2 separate regions of the Homo sapiens genome follow, and region 1 is linked to region 2. Evidence: fine-mapped expression QTL. Tissue or cell type: whole blood. Region 2 holds a variant in brackets; the other region holds the start of a gene. All regions are shown on one strand. Distances are from middle to middle.

What was found. PIP is the estimated chance that this variant, and not a neighbour inherited with it, causes the effect.
Region 1: FAM171A1 starts here. The variant in region 2 is fine-mapped to the expression of FAM171A1 in whole blood (TOPMed, PIP above 0.99). The same link has a PIP of 0.9 or more in blood mononuclear cells and tibial nerve.

Annotation. Positions count from the first base shown.
Region 1 is chr10:15,369,837-15,372,514 of GRCh38, forward strand. FAM171A1 (family with sequence similarity 171 member A1) reads right to left here and starts at 1,453. Exons shown (of 8, transcript NM_001010924.2): 1 at 1,120-1,453. The coding sequence starts at 1,216. RefSeq lists silencers at 1,210-1,439, 1,450-1,499.
Region 2 is chr10:15,254,069-15,256,746 of GRCh38, forward strand. FAM171A1 (family with sequence similarity 171 member A1) reads right to left here. Exons shown (of 8, transcript NM_001010924.2): 4 at 653-811. Among named protein-coding and RNA genes, the nearest start is that of FAM171A1-AS1, 47 kb to the left of the region's middle. RefSeq lists an enhancer at 1,646-2,289. The variant T/C (reference allele first, on the strand shown) is at 1,075.

The sequences.
Region 1 (2,678 bases), 120 kb after region 2:
CAGGACACACACCCTTCTGAGGGGACAGGCCTCGGGCTCGGAATCCCGGGGTTCTGCAGGGCTGCAGGGAGCTCCCTCGCAGAGACCTGAGCCCCCGGCAAGAGTCCAGGCAGCGGTGCCCTGGGTGAATGCAGAGGCTCATCTGCGGGCCTCAGTGGCCCTTTTGAAAACGCCAGCAACAGAGGAGTCCTCGACGCTGTCCCCACAAAAATGTGCCAAGCAAGCCTCAGGGTGGGTGTGGGGGACTCCCCTCAAAAAACGCTGATTTTAAAAACAAAAGACAGGCTCGTGGCCATTCTCAGAGGCGACCACGTTACTCCCAGGGCTGGAAAGCAGATTTGTGGAGGCCAAAGACGAGACAAAAGGCACGAGCTGGCGACAAACTGATCTGGAAAGGATTTTTCTTTTTTTTTTTTTTTTTTTTGGTGAGCGATGAGGGCCTCCCAGTTCAATTCTTTCTTCCCTTACAGAGAAGACTCATGGGCCGCTGAGCAAATCCCTTATGGTCTGGAAGAGACGTCAGATAGGCAGGGGGAGAGAACCCCCCAAACTTTCCCAAACTGCGGCAGGCTAGTGGCTAGTGGCGGCAGCGGACCTCGGGGCCCCGGGACACAGGGGGCACCCCGGGGCGTCAGCCACCCCCTCCCGCCACAACAAAAGGCCCCAGCGCAGCCCAGGAGCTGGGACTTCCCAGACCCGAGCCCGGCGTGGGGAGCCGGGAGCGCGATCGGGCGGCGCGCCCTGGGCGGCCCCTCTGTCCGCGGCGACATGGGAGACAGAGCCGCGTGTCCGAGGCGCGGCATAAAGGGGACCCCCGGGCGCATCCAGACGAGCCCCCGCCGCAGCGGCGACAGCAGCTGGAGCTGCCCGCGCCCCCGCCCGACCCAGCCCCCGATCCCCGGCCCCCGAAGCCTCCGCCCGGGTCACCCCGCGTCGCCGGCCCGCGCCGCCCCCTCGGGAGCGCGTTGCGGGTGCTGCAGGCCCGGAGGCTCCCGATGCGGCTCGGGCTGCGTCGCCACCACGCGGCCCGGGACCCTCCCGCCGCCGCCGCCGCCGCCGCCGCCTCCGCGCCAGGCCCGGCGCGACACAAAGCCCCCGGCCCCGCCGCCGCCCACTGACCTTGGGCTCCGGCGCCGGGCTCCCGCAGCGTCTTGGTCACCGCCTTCCAGACGTGGCAGCCCAGCAGGCACAGCAGCAGCGTCGCGGACCTGCTCATCTCCGCCGCGGGGCCGGCGGCGGCTCGGGCTCGCCGAGAGCGGGCCGGGCGGCGGCGCGTCACGGGCGGCCGGGCGCCGCGCCCCCCTCCATGTCGCTGGCTCCGCGCGCCGGGCCCGCCGCCCGATTGGCCCGGCCCCGCCGCCCCGGCCGCTCCCTCCCGCGCCCCGCGCCGGGTTTCCCCGAAGAGCCGCGGCGGCGGCGGCGGCGGCGGCTGCTGCTGCTCCGCCAGCTCCTTAACCCCTTCCTGCCTCGCCCGCCGCCGCCGCCGCTGCCCGCGCCCAGGCCCCGGGCCCGTGGTGCCACCTGGCGGCTGCGGCGCCGAGGGCGCCCCCGCCCGGCGCCGCTGCGTCGCGCCCCCAGCCCGACCCCCGGCGACACTGCCCCGGCGCGCCCCATCCCCGCAGCCCCGCAGAAGAGCCAGACCTGCCTTTCAGGGCGGAGCCCTTTTCATCACACCAGGTCACCCAAGGGGCCGCAGGAGACATTGTATCTGGGTGTGACCCCCCCACCAGGTGCCATCCTAATGTAGTTGTGTCCCCCAACGTAGATTTCACACCCAGTGTTAAAGATCCGCAAAAACACTCCCCAAGCCAGTATAGACTGCAGTAGGCCTGCAGTACCTACGTGTTGGCGGGTGGACAGCTTCAGGAGGAATGGTACTTGGATGGTTCTAGGGGTTAGGGTGGGGAGGAAATCCACATCTTTTGAGGCCCTAGGTGCTTTAAAACTTTCTGTCCTATTAAAGAAAAAAGACTATTCCATGACACGTGTGAAAGCACAGCAAAGAAGACCCTCTTTGGAACCATCGCAATAGGTATAAGCCCTACCATGGGATTCTGCAGTCGGGGAGAAAGGTTGGGTTCAACTCTGAATACAGCAGGAACAAGTGGGGATTTATAACCGAGGACCAGGGTGGGATGCAGGGAATGAAAAATTATAAGAGGAAACATCAGGGGGAAGGGGGATTCTTGAAAGTCAGACATCCCCTGGCAGGGCTGGGCAGGACAGGGCGGATGGGGAAGCTGATCAGATATCCAGGGTGGAGGGTTCTTGGTAAACTGACTTAGCAGGGTTCTTCCTGAAAGCAGATTTTACAAGGAAGGGCACAACTGAGCCTAGAAGAAGGTTCCGGAGCCTGACTGTAGTTCGGTCAAGCAGAGACTCTTTGTCCATCTTCACAATACATGATCTAAGAGGTAGTTAGCATTATCCCCCCCATTCACAGATGAGAAAAGAGGCTAAAGAGGGTTAAGGAATTTGTCCAAAAGTGCATACCTGGTCAGTGGCAGAGCCAAAATTCTAATAAAACAGTCAGTCTGACCCCAAAATTGAAACTCTTCACAAAAACCTCCAGACTTGGCTGGGTGTGATGGTTCATGCCTATAATCCCAACACTTTGGGAGGCTGAGGTAGGTGGATGGCCTGAGTTCAGGAGTTAAGAGACCAGCTGGGCCAACATG
Region 2 (2,678 bases):
ATTCAAAGCCTGGCCACTCTATGCCCAGTTGAGGACAGAGAGAGCAAGTGCAGAGAAAGAAACGATGTGGGAAAGAGCTGGGTGGACACAGATGGCAGAGGGCGGAGGCTCCCCATCCTAAGTGGTCCCCATGCCGGTGGGGCATGGAGCCAAGGTATGCCTGTCTCTGAGTTGGACCAAGCACCACCTCTTCCCCTCCTGGCTGCAGCATAGGTGGGTGGGGTGGTAAGTCTCTACCAGCCCCACCCACCCACAGGCTACCCTCTCAAATGGGGGCTCGTGGGACGAGGCAGAGGGCAGCTGGGCCAAAAACCCTAAGTCTAATCTTATACTTAAAAAAATTGCAATTTCAATAAGAATTTCTCTGAATTGAATATATTTAGTCCACCAAAGGAGAGCTCAGAGAAGGTGCTTAAGGCAACTGGTAACAGAAGAAAAGCTCAAGGAGACCAATGTGCTAACATGTAATTCTGCAGGGCTCGTACCGACGTAACACAGTTTCAAAGCACTTGAACTTGTACCAAGAATTCCCCTTCTGCACCTTCAGTGCCTTTCTCCCACATAGTGCTAAAACTCCCAATCATACCTAAAATCCACATGTAAAGACTAAAACACAGTAACTCCCACTGAAAAGAGAAAAGACTCCAATTACCTGTTCCATTTCCGTCTAATCCTCGCAAATAAGGAAAACTGTCCACCTCCGAAGGGGAGCTGGCGGCCGTGAGAAACGCGGTCAGGTCACTGTAGCTGGTGTTCTCAGGCAACCTCAGAGCCCTTCTCTGGAAATGAACGCGAGGCTGTGGCCGGGCACCTGCAGAGATTAACCTCCGAGTTATCTCCCCCAGGAGCAGTTTCTGTTTTTAGAAAATGCAAAACCAGGAAGTGCCTCTCTAAGGTTTCAGCACGCCTCCCCCACCCTGCTCCCTCTCACAAGGCCTCCCTTCCCCCATTCATGCAGGACACAGAGATGTGACAACATGCTATTATGGGGAGAGAAATAATAGCCCATTGTCACATTTGTTTTGACACAGGATGTTATTTAGGTTTTTAACAAAAAGCTTTTTCCAAGTTCCA[T/C]GTGCAAGCAGTCTTGTCACTGCCCAGCATTTGCCTGTGGATCTGGGTAGCATTTTGGGAAACTCCATGTAAATGAAACAAGTAGATGACTATTAATCTCTTTACTCAAACAATGTAAGAGATACTCTTTGATACCGCTGCAAACCCGTCTTTAATCTCCCTGGAAAAATCTGGTTTAATGCCATGAACCAAATTGAAGGAGGGCAAGGGAATTAACAGTGCAACCTTGAAAAGAATTGCAAACAATACCCCAGCGGCAATGAATCTTCTCTTTCTGTGGGAGCTGCCATTTGTCATCATCCAGTCTATTCTGGAGGCGTGCTTCCTACTTGTGATGGATTATGTCACAGAATTTAGGATGAGACTTTTGAAATGATGCAAAATGATGCTTCTTCACCAAACTCAACTCCTTTGTGTAGGAGGACAGGTTGGGCTGACAGGCCCTAGACAGTTGGTTGTGCCGTCCTCTGCAGCTTAACTTTGCTCCAAATTTTCTTTTTCTTTTCTTCTTCTTTTTTTTTTTTGAGATGGAGTTTTGCTCTTGTCGCCCAGGCTGGAGTGCAGCGGTGTGATCTCAACTCCCTGCAACCTCTGCCTCCCGTTCAAGCGATTCCCCTGCCTCAGTCTCCCAAGTAGCTGGGATTACAGGTGCCCGCCACCACACCCAGCTAATTTTTGTATTTTTAGTAGAGGCAGGGTTTCACCATGTTGGCCAGGCTGGTCTTGAACTCCTGACCTCAGGTGATCCACCCGCCTCAGCCTCCCAAAGTGTTGGGATTACAGGTGTGAGCCACCGCGCCTGGCCCAGATGTTGTTTTGATCATAAAACCTGAACTGGTTTTTACCTAATGCTGCGGTGATATTCACCAGACGTAAAGGTGCTAGGTAATTTTGTGCAAACCTGGCAAAAGCATTGTTAAGAGAAAAACTGTAGATCCAACCCCAGGCTTGAGGCAGACCACATTCCACCTGTGCTTTGCTGAGGGTTCCTTCTCCCGGCCCCCTGCTGTCCTGCTTCAACAGCTCTGCACGGAGCTGGTGGGCTTTATCTCCACTCCAGGGTTCCTTTTAACTCTGGATCAAAGAACTTGTAAGGAGTGAAGAAGCCTGTCTAGACGTGTTCTAGAAAAAGGGAGTTTTAGAGCTCCAAGAATCCACTAGCCCAAGTCTCTCTTCTTAAAGGTGAAGTCACTGAGGTCCAAAGGACTTATGTCGGGGGCAGCCTGTCTTGGCTACACACTGCCTAACTGGCAGGGAGTCACAATGCTCCCTCTTCCTTTTAAAAACTAGCAGGTAGACTTCTCCAGGGGCTGGTTCTCCACTCTGTGAAATCCAGGCCCAGGTTTAGAGCCCAGCGAGCAGGTGCCCAAAATCATGAGAGTCCTATCTAACTCCGGTCATCTCTGCTGAAACTAAACAGACACAGACATTAGTCTAGCTCCAGACCATCGATTCCCCTTCTTCATCCCTAAAACAAACCCACAGCGACACACCAGCCTCTGGGGATCTGGGTATTTTAACATTATTGTATTCTTCTTAGTCTGGTCTTATTTTCCCTCGATGTTACAGAATACCGATGTCTTACTCCTGCCACCTCCTTGGTC